Linked DNA regions of Homo sapiens: region 2 is linked to region 1. Evidence: fine-mapped expression QTL. Tissue or cell type: whole blood. Region 1 holds a variant in brackets; the other region holds the start of a gene. All regions are shown on one strand. Distances are from middle to middle.

The links. PIP is the estimated chance that this variant, and not a neighbour inherited with it, causes the effect.
Region 2: MAPRE3 starts here. The variant in region 1 is fine-mapped to the expression of MAPRE3 in whole blood (TOPMed, PIP above 0.99).

Annotation. Positions count from the first base shown.
Region 1 is chr2:26,999,416-27,006,951 of GRCh38, forward strand. The region is part of intron 1 of MAPRE3 (microtubule associated protein RP/EB family member 3); the gene reads left to right. All of the region lies in intron 1 of MAPRE3-AS1 (MAPRE3 antisense RNA 1), which reads right to left. Among named protein-coding and RNA genes, the nearest start is that of MAPRE3-AS1, 11 kb to the right of the region's middle. The variant T/C (reference allele first, on the strand shown) is at 3,799.
Region 2 is chr2:26,966,903-26,974,438 of GRCh38, forward strand. It overlaps MAPRE3 (microtubule associated protein RP/EB family member 3), which reads left to right and starts at 3,735. Exons shown (of 7, transcript NM_012326.4): 1 at 3,735-3,900. RefSeq lists a silencer at 3,620-3,949.

The sequences.
Region 1 (7,536 bases):
AGTTGGCCAAAGCAAGAGAGGCAGGATTAGGGTCCAACTACATGCACTTTTTTCTTCTTTCTTTCCTTCTTTCTTTTTTTTTTTTTTTTTTTTTTTTTTTGGGATGGAGTTTCGCTGTTGTCACCCAGGCTGGAGTGCAGTGCAGTGGTGTGATCTCGGCTCACTGCAACCTCCTCCTCCTGGGTTCAAGCGATTCTCCTGCCTCAGCCTCCTGAGTAGCTGGGATTACAGGCATGTGCCACCACACCCAGCTAATTTTGTATTTTTAGTAGAGACGGGTTTCTCCATGTTGGTCAGGCTGGTCTCGAACTCCTGACCTCAGATGTTCCACCTGCCTTGGCCTCCCAAAGTGCTGGGATTACAGGCGTGAGCTACTGTGCCCAGCCCAACTACATGCACTTTTAATGTGACTGACATCTCATAGATTTTTTTTTGGCAGATTTTTTTAACCATTTTAGTGGATAATACAAATTTGAAATACAAATTAGTTCTAATATTTTACCATAAAACATTTCATTTTTTCCACATTATCATTATTAAGGTTTCCATTTCAATTCTGAATATAGTTCTCAATATTTTACAACTGCAGTAAGGAAGAAAAAATATTGTTTTCAAACTACTTATCTTTCTACCAATTCTCAGTTGTTGGTTCTTAAAAAATGACTTCACAAAAATTTTTAAGATGCTAATAACAAATTTCCACTTAAATATATGGATGGCTGATTTTACAAATAAATGTACGGGTTTGTGTTACTATTATGCTCTCCCTAGATAACAAAACAATAAAAGAAATTTTAGTAATATCAAGTAAGTACTGACCAGGTGAGTACTGTGAGACAGTGTCATGAAAAGGTTCTTAGGGGTTGAAAGACATGGTTTCTGCTCAGAGGACTCACCGCGGAGCAAAGGAGAGAGACCCGTGGACAGATAAGTACAAGGCAGGCTCCTGTGAGAAATGACAGAGGTATGAGGCTGTGGAGGCCCAGAATGTTCTCCATTATGACCCGATGAGGAGGGAGGAGGGAAGTGGAAAGAGGAACAAGGGTAGAAGAGAAAGGAGAAAAGTGAAAGACTTAAAAACAAGGAGGGAAAAGAATGAAGAAGAAAGAGTTACAAGGAAAATAACTTGCCATTTTTTACACCTAATAATGTATGAAGTACTTTCAGATTGGTTATTTCATTTGATTCTGCCAAGAAGGCAAGAGATGAGAGACAGGAGGAGGAGGAGGGAAGCAAGGCCCATGACCAGGAGAAGGAGCTGCACCACAAAGAGCTCAGAGCCCCTCTGGCCTCCTAGGCCGGTGCAGCTGCCGGTGTCCGCTGGTGAAGGTGGACCTCAGTGGCCCTAGTTAGAAGCCAGTGGGACCTTGTAAAACCAGGGCTCCAGCTGGGAAGTCTGAACCTCCTGGACAGAAAGCAACAGAAGCCTTAAAGTAGTTATCTTGGCAACTATTGTCAAGGACTCATTGCTGCCTGACCACAAGATTTATCCAATTATTTATCTACCTTGTTTTATTTTTTAATATTTTTTTCTCATCACGAAAGTAAGACATATTCGCTGTAGAAAATTTTGAAAATTCAGATAAACCCAAATATGAAAATAAAATCCCATATAACCGTACCATCAGACAGAACCACAATTATAATTTTAGAATATACTTCACATTTTTCTTCAACAACTGTTGGTATATTTTTGTTCTGTAATACAATCATACATTGCTTAATGATGGGATACATTCCGAGAAATGTGTCTTGTGATTTTGCCATTGTGCAAACATCATAGAGTGTACTCACCCAAACCTAGATGGTATTGCCTACTACATACCTAGACTGTATGGCATAGCCTATTGCTCCTAGGCTACAAACTTGTACAGCATGTGACTGCACTGGATACTGTAGGCAATTGGAACATAATGGTTAGTATTTGGGTATCTAAATATATGGTCTGGGTATGGTGGCTCATGCCTGTAATCCCAGCACTTTAGGAGGTTGAGGCGGCAGGATCACTTGAGTCCAGGAGTTAGAGACAGCAGTGAGCCATGATTGTACCACTGAACTCCAGTGTGGGTGAGACAGAGTGAGATCCCATCATTCATAGATAGATAGATAGATAGATAACTGATAGATAGGCATATAATTGATAGATAGGTACGTAGATCTAAACATAGAAAGGGTACGGTGAACTATGATTGCACCACTGCACTCCAGCCTAGGAAACAAATCAAGACCCCTTCATTAATTCATTCATTCACTCATAAATAAATAAATGCATATATACACACATACGTACATACATGTATACATACATACATTAAACAGAAAGGGTACAGTAAAAATACAGCATAATCTTATGGAACCACTGTCGTACATGCAGTCTGTTGTTGATGTAAACATTGTGATGCGGTGCGTGACTGTGTTTTCCCCCGGCTTCATGGACTGTAAACATCTTTCCATGTGTTTTATCAATTGGGATTGTGTTTTGAAACAAGTAACAGCAAACCCTGTCAACAGTGGCTTGAACAAATAATGGGGTATTTTGCTCGTGAGGCAGGAGTCTGAAAGTAGGAGGTCTAGGCTAGTGGAACAGCTCAAGGACGTTGCCAAGGACACTCCTGCTGTCTTAGGCGGCTGTGTTGCTTTACGGTCTCAAGGTGGCTCTTAACTCTCAGGGAGGCTGAGAAAGCAGGCATTTTGTGTTACTGGCCTCTCTATTGGAGACAGGTAAGGAAGAAGGGTGTTGGGATGGGAGCTGAGTCACCCAGCCAGCAGTGCCAGCATCATTACATATTCTAGAACATCCCTCTTTTCAGAGTGGCATTGTTTGGATGTGTCACAATTTATTTAACAATTCATTGTTGGACATTTCGGTGGTTTCCAGTTTTTCATTATTGTAAACATGCTAATATCTAAAGTTTTACACATATCTATAATTAGTGATTCAGTATAAAATTCCTAGAAGTGGAATTAAGGTCAAAGAGTATATAAAATCTAAAGGCTTTTAATCTTTTTTTTTTTTTAACCAAACTGCTCTCCAAAATGGCTGTACTAAACTATATTCTCACCAATCATGTTTAAAAGAACCCATTTCCCTGTACCCTCAAAACCAGGTTTTTTGTTCTGTCATTAAGCTGTTATACCATGCCCATTAGTGTGGGTTTAACTTTGTATTAGCCCTGACCAGACTCTGAACTGCCCATCTTGGAACCCAGAGCAGTTGCACCCTTCTGTGTTGCACCTGGGGGTGTGGGTCTGCAGGCTGTCCTGTATGTCCAGGCAGGCTGGTGGGGCCCTTGTGCTGATGGGCACTGCAGAGGACCCATGATGTTTCTTGTGAGCATGCACCTCGCTCATCTATTCTTGTTTTGAAAGTCCTTTCTGCCACTGTGAAGTCATCATTTGTCCCACCTGAGTCCTAATTCAAGGCCATCCTGGCTTGTCTTAGATTGAGATGCACCTGGGAACTGGCCTCTTTCGATACAGTGCACCCCACATCCTCACTCGTTGCTCTTACTGGCCTACCTCAGGTATAATGGCCTTACAGGTCTGTGTCATCATCTGTAACAGAGAAGGCTGAGAAGATGGTGTCAGTAGATTCTGGGGACATTTTAATCTATTAAGCTGCTTTTGAGACGTACTACAGTTTCCTGAGGAGGTGGCCAAAAGAGTGAGTGATCCCTATGCATCAACACTCTATGAAGTAATTACTAACTGGTGAGCAGTTAGCCACTACGTACGGCCCTTCTCATCCAGTGAGGAGTCAGCCATGGGTGAGACAGAAGGAGTCCCTGAACTGCAATC[T/C]TCTGGCCAGATTCTCTATATGCACACAGTGGTGTTTCAATATTCATGAGTGTAGGCAGATAGTCACGAGTAAACAAATGAGCAATGAATCCAAATGAGCAAGACAGGCTGAATGCAGAACACAGGCCAAAGCCCCAGACCACATCACTACCCCTCTAAAATCAGAAAAAAAAATCAGAATTCTGATTCCAGGAGGGAAATGATAAGGACTCTATTTCAATGCTCCCTTCAGGACCTTACCCTGATCTCTTGAGAGGTGACACCCTCAAGAGAGAAGCACCATCTTAGGGAATCAGCTGTCTACGAGCTTTTCTCATAGCCATGGCTTTACGCTTCTCTGTCAGTTACCATCACCACTTGGAAAGGGAAACTACAATTTATGAAGCATCTGTTATCGATCCAGCTAATGCTGGGAAGGTGATACCTGACCAGTCACTACTGTCAAACTTCCAGCTCACGGCTTCTACCCAGATCCCTCACTTTCCCCATGAGAGGGTGCTGCTCAGTATGGCATCCACAAAATCAGTCCCTCACACAACTTACTTATTTAACAATATCACAGTCCCCATCCCCTTCTCCTTACCTAATTTCATTGTTACCGGCCCCATGTCAAAGATTATTTAAAACTCCCCGGCTGTCAAAATTCCATTAACAACCTCTGACCTATAACCGTCACTCACTGAATTGACACGTGTGAGGTTCTGTGCGGATGCTCCACTTGAGTTAGCTTGAACCTTCACAACAGTCCGGCAGCATAGGTATTTTAGAATTATTAGTAATGTTGAGCATGTTTCACATGTTTGTTGGCCATTTACACTTCCCCTTCCATGAGTCATCTGTCAAGAGGCTCTGTGCCCACGAGCCATACACATAATGATGTCCAAAAAGCGCTTCTATTTTACTGTAAGAAACTCAGGCAAAGAGAGGCCGCCTTTGCCCAGAGGATCTCTCATGCCTGGGAGGTCGTGAGAGGCAGAGCTGGAGTTGGGTGCTGTGGAGTCCTTTTCACCACCTTTTTCATGCACCATGCTGCCCGTCCACATAGCTCAATGTGCCTGTTTATTTCTTAGGAAATACACCACAGGGCTACTATTTAGGTAGTGCAATTAAAGTTTACTTTCTGAATTCTCTATTTCCCCTATCTTTAGCAGAAAACTTGGGAAAGCCTAAGTCATTTTCCACTTCTTAGCCCCTTCCTCCTCCCCCTCATTTTCTAGGCAAAAATATGATAAGAGAGTAGCTTGGATAATGTCTAGCTTTGTTTTGGTTCTCTGGTGATGTGAATTTTTCCCATTGTTACCAAACTCCCACTTTTTCCACGTCGAAATACATTTCATGATAGCTGGAGTATGGCAACAGCACTCCTGAGTTACAGGCATGCGCCACCATGCCCAGCTAATTTCTATTTTTGTAAAGATAGGGTCTCACTATGTTGCCTAGGCTAAAACCTTCTGATAAGGATATTTTCTAGTATCTCATGTTTAGAGCAAATTACTAGAATATCAAGGATCTAGTAAAAAAAAAAAAAAAAAAGTAAATGCCATGGATATGTCTGGGATCAGTACAGATTTATCCCAGGATACTAGATCTTTAGTAGAAGGCATGAATGGTGAGAATTCCTCAGCAGGATTTCCGGATGTTTGTTAGACATGAGCACACAGATGACTTGTGGGTTCTCAAACTCGACAGCCCAAAACAGTTCACAGAAGAGTAAATATATATGGGTAATAAACATAGAAATATGTTCTCCCTCACTAGTAATCAAAGAAACATTATTTTAAAGATAAAAAAATACTTCTCTTTCAATCAACACACTTTTTAAAATAATAACAATGTTGGTGTTGAAATGAGCACTCATAAACTTCTGGGGAAAAAATGAAAGGTACAGCCTTTATGGAAGCTGTTAGTCCTTAAAAAATATATCATGCCCTTTGACCCAGTAATTCCCTGCCCAAGGAAGTAGTCACAGATTTAGACAAAAATTGAATGTTCAAATATATTAATTCCAGGACTATCAAAAATCAAAATGCCCAGCAACTAAAGCTAATGTAAGGATAGCATGGAATATTATGCCCCATGGAAGATGATGCTTCCTAATATCCTTAATTATTCTTTGAAGTGTCCACAGCATAATCTTAAGTGAGCTCGTGGTCTTCACTGCACTCTCAAACCTGCTCTTCCTGCAGTTTTCTCCATCCTTCCAGTGGCTTGGGCAAGAAACTTTGGGGTCATCTTTGACCTCTCTCACATCTCATAGTGCTCTGCAGCAAATCCTCAGTCCCACATTTTGTAAGATTCTCCCTACTTTCCAGGCCTTCTGCAAAGCATGAACTGCAAAGGCTCGAGGAGGAAAGAAAGCAACACTGAACTCCCTTGAGTGGTTAGGGTTTTGGTTCCTAAATTAAGGCACAGTTTTCCTTTTCCTTGAATTAATTATCTAACTCTTCCTCCTAGGGCAGAATCAATGGGCCAAATGGCCTCATTGAGAACATGACATCCAAAGGGAGAGTGGCAGGAGTCAAAGTATTATTATAATGAATAGAAATAGGTGAGGGAGAAAGTAATGGGATTTCATTGGTGGCAACCCTACTTGCTGAGAATTGTTGTATATTTTCAGTGAGCAACAAATATTGTACAGCATGGAGGACCATCAAATTTAAAAGAGACCTTAAAACCAAGAGTGTGTCGGCCGGGCGCGGTGGCTCACGCCTGTAATCCCAGCACTTTGGGAGGCCGAGGTGGGCGGATCACGAGGTCAGGAGATCGAGATCATCCTTGCTAACACGGTGAAACCCCGTCTCTACTAAAAATACAAAAAATTAGCCGGGCACAGTGGCGGGCGCCTGTAGTCCCAGCTACTCGGGAGGCTGAGGCAGGAGAATGGCGTGAACCCGGGAGGCGTAGCTGGCACTGAGCCAAGATTGCACCACTGCACTCTAGCCTGGGTGACAGAGCGAGACCCCGTCTCAAAAATAAAAACAAAAACAAAAACAAAAAAAAAACAAGTGTGTGGAAGCCATTAGCTTAGCTGCTGTGGCTATTAGACAAGTAGGCTTTGCCATTGGGTGAAGAGAGACTTAGTAGACTATTGATGTCTGATAATTCCCATTATTGGGGAGGAAATGTAATTTCTTCTTAACCTTCATAAGTTCATAGTTGGGACAGACCCCTGTAACAAAAGACAGATCAGCAAAAGAAAAACAAGCAAAGTTTTTTTATTTTGTTTTTCTCTTCAGATACAGGGTCTCACTCTGTCACTAAGGCTGGGGTGCCGTGGCATGATCACAGCTCATTGAAGCCTTGAACTCCTGGGCTCAAGCAATTCTTCCTCCTCAGCCTCCCAAGTAGCTGGGACTACAGGCATGTGCCACCACGTCCCACTATTTTTTTTAAAATTTTTTGTAGAGACGGGGTCATGCTATGTTGCCCAGGCTGGTCTTGAACTCCTGACCTCAAGCAGTCCTCCCGCCCCAGACTCCCAAACCACTGAGATTATAGGCATGAGCCACCATGCCTGGCCAAGCAAGTTTATTAATGTGTGGAGGGCACAGAATGCAGGAGAAACCCCAATGAAAGGCAACTTCAAGGCAGTGGCGTCAAACTCTGGCTTATATGCCATCTTCAGAAAAGAACAATACATTTGTAGAGAAATAACAGGACAGAAGAAAGCAATTTTAGGCTTCCAAAAGGGGGAAACTGTGGGAAGTTAGATACATGGGAAGAAACCAATGGTGTAAG
Region 2 (7,536 bases), 33 kb before region 1:
TGGGAGGCCAAGGTGGGTGGATCACTTGAGCTTGGGAGTTCTAGACCAGCTGGGAAACATGGTGAAACCCTGTCTCTACTAAAAACACAAAAATTAGCTGGCATGTGCCACATGCCTATGGTCTCAGCTATGTAGGAGGCTGAGGTGGGAGGATCACTGGAGCTCAGGAAGTCTAGGCTACAGTGAGCTATGATCACACCACTGCACTCCAGCCTGGGTGACAGAGCAAGACCCTGTCTCAAAGACAACAACAACAAGTGGAATTAGGGTCAGGCCCTGGGCTTACATCTGTAATCCCAACACTTTGGGAGGCCAAGGCTGGAGGATTGCTTGAGCCCAGGAGTTTGAGACCAGGCTGGGCAGCATAGCGAGACCTCATCTCTACAAAAAAAAAGAATCTAAAAGAAAATTAGCCAGGTGTGGTGGCACACCCCTGTGGTCCCAGCTACTTGGGAAGCTGAGGTGGGAGGATTGTTTGAGCCCAGCATGTCAAGGCTGTAGGTGAGCCGTGATCACGCCACTGTACTCCAGCTTGGGCAACAGAGCAAGACCCTGTCTTAAACAAACAAACAAGCTAAAGAAGTGGAATTAACAGTATTAGAAAACTGTCCTGGGGCTGGGTGTGGTGGGTGGCTCAAGCCATTAATCCCAGCACTTTGGGAGGCCGAGGCAGGTGGATCACATGAAGTCAGGAGTTTGAGACCAGCCTGGCCAACATGGCGAAATCCTGTCTCTACTAAAAATACAAAAATTAGCCAGGTGTGGTGGTGCATGCCTGTAGTTCCAGCTACTCGGGAGGCTGAGGCGTGAGAATCGTTTGAACTTGGGAGGTGGAAGTTGCAGTGAGCTGAGATCGTGCCACTGCACTCCAGCCTGGGTGACAGAGCAAGACTCTGGCCCAAAATAATAATAACAATAACAATAATAATAATTTGCAAATCATATATTATCTGATAAGGGATTTATATCCAGAATATATAGAGAAATCCTAAAACTCAACAACAATAAACAAACGGTCCGATTCAAAAATGGACAAAGGACTTGACTAGACATTCGTGCAAAGAAATTACACAAATGATCTATAAGCACTAAGACAACATAAAAAGTCGTCCAGCAAGCACCCTGCTGTTTAAGTTTCAGCCACCTTCTGACTCACACCTTGAGCTAGAACCATCCAACTGCGGGCTTTCTGAATTCCCATCCCACAGAAATAGAGATAACGAAATGGTTGTTGCTTTAAACCACTGAATTGGAGTGATTCATTTTGTAGCAATAGTTAATGGCACATAGTAAAATGTTAATATGTAGAGAATCTGGGTGAAGGGTATATAGGAACTCTTTGTAGAATGGTCCTCTACCTTGTGTATGACAAAGGGGTGGGGTTACAAGGATCATAGCTTCTTCTCAGGATTACTCAGGACAGTCTACACCACCCAAGTCTATACCTGTAACAATGAAGCTGAGCTGGAACTTCAGAATGGGAAAGCAAGATAAACTGAGCGTGCGACTTCCCTATTGCCTTGGTGACACCCAGATACCCTGCAGATGCAGTTAGAAACAGCTCCAGTTGTCCAACTCTGTGGCTAGAAAAAAGTGTAGCCTGGGTTTTTACTCTCCTAACCCCTTGATTTGTTTTGGGAATTATTGTCTACAAAGAGCTCTCTCCTTTCTGATAATTGCTTTAGGTGGAAGAAGAGAGGATATGCTGTGTCCCCTCTCTTTTCTTACTTACTCTATTTGTAACTTTCTTCTTTTTTCCCCAAGAAAATGGGCTTAGTTGGGGTGCTTTGGCACCAATAGTCCTGCGGCGGAATCTGTGGGAGCTAGACAGGGAGATTTGGAAGAGAATGCTAGGTTGTGAGCTCTTGCTTTTGAGTTGTTTGAAGAGAATGCTGCATCTCTGGCATGTCAACAAGCCCAGCAGAATCCAGTAACGTTCACCAAGAAGGCTTGATTAGAGCTGGTTAGGGGATGATCAGGATGGTTAGGTGTGAAGAGCTTACGCTGATTATGGAGGGTATGGGAGTCACGGGGTTGGTACCCAGTGAGGAAATTTACCTTAGTAGAAACATTTGGGATAGTGTAGAAGAGAGAAGAGCTAGAGGCGAGGATTCAGGAAATAGAGAATGCCAGAGTCTCAATTAACAGGATGGAAAGCTAAGGAGATGAAAGACTTATAATAGTAGCATAGTACTAAAAGACAAACTATGTGTAAAGGTATTAGAAATGGGGACTGGGACTCTGAGGCAGTTAGGCCAGAGAAAAGAAGAAGGAAAAGATTTGTCTTCATTTGATTCAATTACATAAGCATTTCTCAGAATCTGCTATGTGTCACATGCTGTGGTGGATGCTGAGGGAGCTGATGAAAAAGACAGAATTCCTGCCCACCAGGGTCACATAGTCTGGAGACACAGACACGTAAACAAATGACGATAGTGTAAGGTGTGTGTAAGAAAGGAGGAATGTACAGGGTTGGTACAAAGGTGACCTCAAGGCATCCATGGGAATCAGGGCTGAGGGAGGAAGAGCCAGAAGACATCAGCACAAAGAGAACCAAGATGCTGAAGTCACAGGGGGAAAGAACATACTGGAGCCCCGGGCAGAGCAGTGCTGGACAAGGACAGCAAGTGTGGAGAGGAAAGGGAGATCCAGAAGAACCGAGGAGATCCATAACAGCATGCTTGGAGGAGGAAATTCGGGAAAACGAATGGACATGTCAGAGGGAGCTAGTTATGAGGAAGTGGACTGCAAACCAGATAGTGAGCAAGATGAAGAAATGAGGTGTTTATCCTTGCAATGGGAGAGAGACAATAAGGCTGACAAAAACTCAAGTGGTCTGTGGATAGACGATTTCGTTAGCTCGATTTAAGGGTAAAGGGCACACTCTCTGGTAGGAGATGAAAGGGGATGTTTAAAACAGGTAGAAAAAAATTGGGCCGGGCGCGGTGTCTCACGCCTGTAATCCCACCACTTTGGGAAGCCGAGGCAGGTGGATCACCTGAGGTTAGGAGTTCGAGACCAGCCTGGCCGACATGATGAAACCCCTGTCTCTACTAATAATACAAAAACTTTGCCAGGCATTGTGGCGCACGCCTGTAATCCCAGCTACTCGGGAGGCTGAGGCAGGAGAATTGCTTGAACCCAGGAGGCAGAGGTTGCAGTGAGCCAAGATCGCGCCAGTGCACTCTAGCCTGGGCGACAAGAGTGAAACTCCGTCCCAAAAAAAAAGAAAAAAAAATGAATTTGGGAATTAGAGAAAAAGACTGTGATTGGAACCCACACACCAAGAGAGGAGATAAAACCCAGCCTTAGCTCTTCCATGTCGCTGAAAGAGAAGAAAACGTCTCTTTTTCCTTTTCCGTAGCCATAAAAGATGAAAATCCGTCATCCAGCTACTGAAATCAGGTGCACACGGTTGTTCCTCCTGTGATGAGACAGGGCGGAGGGATTGTTACCCTGTTGCCAGGGAAAAAGGAAGGGGCTGTTCCCAGTTGCTATGGTGACGAGGTAGGCGCGTTCCCTCGGTACCGCCGCACACGTCTGAAGCGGTCTCTTCTCCTCGTTGCTACGGCAACGCAGTGGGCCTGTTCCTGTCGCCCCCCGCCTCCCGCCGCAATCGCTAAGGCAAGGTGGAGGTAGGGGCTGTCCTCCCGCGGCTCAGTTGCCTTGGAGACGGCGGGTGCCCTGGCCCCGCCCCGCTCGGACTGACAGCGGCGGCCGCATCGCGCCTGCGCAGTGCCCTCGTCCCCCGCAGTCTCTGTGCGTTGAAGCCGGAGACCGCGGCGGCCTCAGCGAGGACCCTCCGCCCCGGAGCCGCCGGCCGGAGCCGCAGCCTCTGCCGCAGCGCCCCCGCCACCTGTCCCCTCCCCCTCCGCCTCCGCCGGAGCCGCCTCGTGCACTGTGAGTCCGGGCCGAGGCGACGGACGCCGTGGGGCTGAGTCAGCGGGAGGCCAGGGCCCGGGCTGGGGGAGGGGAACCGGGCTCCCCCCGCCCCTGCCTCCCCACCCGCACTCCCGCATCCCGACCGCGCCTTCCCCGCGCCGGTCAACCCCCTCCATCCCTGTCGCCGGGTTCCCTCCGGCCTTGGCGGCCCGGCCTCCCCAGCCACTCCCCCTCCCCTTCCCTCCCCTCCCCTTCCCTCCGTCTCTCCGGGTCCACCTTGAGGCTCCTTCCCCACTAGACGTGGCCACCGCACCTCTGCCCTGGGCTGATATTTTCTCCAAACTACCTCCCGTCCGCCCTTATCCCTTCTCCCTCCTCCTCACTCCTCCTAGGCCTGACATCTCCCGGCCTCTCTGGATCTCCCCAGTGATGTGCCAGAAAAAGAGTGACAGGAGAGCGAGGGGAGACTTGGGGGAGGGGGAACATCGGGCCAGGCCCAGCCTGGGGGCCTCGGGTTTCTTCCCCACACGCTCCTGCCTGGCTGGTTTGGGGAAGCAGGTCTGGACAGTTCTCACTGGCTGCTCAGAGCTTGCAGGGCTTTCCGAATAGATTTGGCTGGGAAGGGTTCAGCCCCATCGTGATCATCTAGCGTTTAATGAACGCGGCTAGTGCCTGGTGGCCTTCTAGTGGGCTGAGCTACTGCCCGGCCGGTGTTGCGGAGCGGGGAGTAGAAGTAGTGGAGGGAAGGGAGAAGAGGTTGCGTTTGGGAGCTCCAAGTTCCTGCGCTTCCGGTGTGGTGTTGTGAATAAGCATCTTGCGGAACTCTTTAAAATGCTTTTTTTTTTTTTTAAATCGCACTACAACCCTGGTATAATGTGAGGTTTGGAAAAAGGCCTGATACCATCCATAGGAAGTGCTTACTGTTTATATATGAAGGGGCTGTGGCAGGACTTGATCTTGGATTCCTGTAAATTAACTAATTGGATAGTAGTGAGTTTTTAACATAACGTGTGCAGAGTTGAGAGGAAGGAGAAAAATCGAAGCTTCTCCATGGTGTAGGTGTGAGGCCTGTACACTGTGCCTCCTCCAGCTGTGTGTCTTTGTGGGGCTGTCACCAGATAGGGGTTCTAGCATATTTGGACAATTCCCTGGGTTATGTTTGCTACCCCTCCACCTGCCCATCTTGCAGTCCCTGTTCTTGGAATAGAAGAGGGTCCCAAACAGTTTTCTTTTTCCAGAAGAACTGAGTTGAAGTCAGAGTTAGTGCCCAGAGCCAGAAACTCTTAATAAACATGTCTCAACTTGAGGGCCCCTAACTACTATATGACCTCATTGTCAGCTTCTTTTTTATTTGGCTTCCAAATTTCAGTGTGCTTTTAGAAAGCACGTGTAAATATAAGCCAGATCTACCGCACAAGAGGCTTTGGGATTTTTACTCCAGATGGTAAAAGGAACGCATGGTCCATTTCTAAAAATCATGGTGAAGGAGCCACTCATTTGGAGTTTCCGGGGTTGCAAACAATGAGAAATAACTATTTCACTCTTTACTTTGCTCAATCATGGCCTATTGGCAGCCTCCTCATAGCCACTCCCTGCCCCCATGCCCATCAGATTAGTTTACAGTAGCCAAGACGGCTGTCGCCCTAGTTTTAAACATAGAGATGAAGTTCAGGAAAACTATAGCCCCCATCCAGCAGGGCAGTTTCTTCTGTTTCGAATGCCAGACTGGGGTTTGGTGGGATGCACCTGCCTGTGGTGCAGTGGGAACTGTGGGGCCTGAGAGTGGCATTCCTTCTGTGTGGTCCTGTGTCACATAGCTCACCAAAATACCCGAGCAGGGCAGGAGCAGACAGCTGTACTGGAGAGCTGCTCCTCCTGGGCTGAGTGTATTTTGGGAATCAGCGATATTACTGGGGTGGAGGGTTGTGAATTAAGGAGGAAGAAAATGTGTCAAGGCTAGATAGATCAGGAGGGTGTAAGTAAAATGTTCCTTTCCAGTTTGCTATGGGATAGTACATTTTCAGAGGATCAGAGTAGTTTTTATATGGATTAATTTGCCTTTGAAATCCATACCAGTGTTTTATGAGATAATGATGGAATGCCTTTTAAACTGCTACTATGAGGAAACAGGACTAATACTTGTCTTATACATTGCCTATCCAGCTGTTGCTGAATGTAATTGTTAAGATCAAGGAGAGGGACATGATTTGAACCAAGTTAGACCTAAATCTATGTAATGGTATTGAGGTTTTGTAGGACTGTATTCTTGATTCTAAGACACACCAGCAATTTACCAATAGCTTTTAGGTAAAATAATCTAATGCTACCAGATCAAAATATATATGCTGATTCCAAGGTGCATCCTCATTTTAGAAACATTAAAACCCTCGGGAAATGGCAAGACTTGAGGGAGGGATTTGTGAATCTTGGAACTGAGAAAGAATGCTATTGATAGTATTCCTGTGTGATGATGCCGTTTCTGACCTACCGTCCTGAGAGTGCATGCATTGTGAAGCTGAGTTTCTTCTAGTCCTTCCTGCACGCCAGCACACATTGTGGGGTTGTATTTGTAAGATGACTGGCTGGAGTTAGGCATAGTAGGAGGCTATTGAACGGAGGAAAGTTCCCATATGAGAATCCAACCCAGGGTCTTAATGTGGTACTCTCCAGAAACTGAGCCAACTAACTGGCAGCAAACGTCTTATGAGCTATTCCTGAATTTAGCCGAGTAACATTTGTCAGAAGCCGAACAGAAAATATAGTTTTTTTTTTTTTTTTTTTGAGACGGAGTCTCGCTCTGTCGCCCAGGCCGGACTGCGGACTGCAGTGGCGCAATCTCGGCTCACTGCAAGCTCCGCTTCCCGGGGTTCACGCCATTCTCCTGCCTCAGCCTCCCGAGTAGCTGGGACTACAGGCGCCCGCCACCGCGCCCGGCTAATTTTTTGTATTTTTAGTAGAGACGGGGTTTCACCTTGTTAGCCAGGATGGTCTCCATCTCCTGACCTCATGATCCACCCGCCTCGGCCTCCCAAAGTGCTGGGACTACAGGCGTGAGCCACCGCGCCTGGCCAGAAAATATAGTTTTTTAAAACAGAATGCATCTGCCCTGATTTGCTTACAGATACATTTGTAAAGGTCCCAAGGCACATGTCTCCCTCGCTTAGGATGTTAGCACTGGAGGTGACCCCAGATGGTATAGTTTAATGCCCTCATTTCTAAAGTTGACACAAGACACCAAGAGTTAAATGACTTACCTAAGGTCACCCAACCCATGCAGAACGTATGTAAAAACACTTTGTAAACTGTGTACACTAGGCAGATGAATGTTGGTGGTTATTAGTGGCTGAGTCAGGATTAGATCTCCAGATTTCCAGACTAGAGTTATTCTTCAACACCACATTGCCTCATCCCTCATAATGTTCCAAAGGGTTTTAATAAAAATAATTTAGTAGTCCGTAATTAGCCCTGTAGGCAAGGGCTTGTTTTGTCATCTGAGATGCTGCACAGCCAGGCAAAATTTTGTGTCAAACTGTCTAACTAAATATTTATTCTTGCCACTTTAAAAATAATATTTTTTATCACACATTCTGACTTCAGGAAGGTCTTTCTTTTTTTAATTTGCATCAACTAACAGAAAAGCAAATGTGAAGTTGG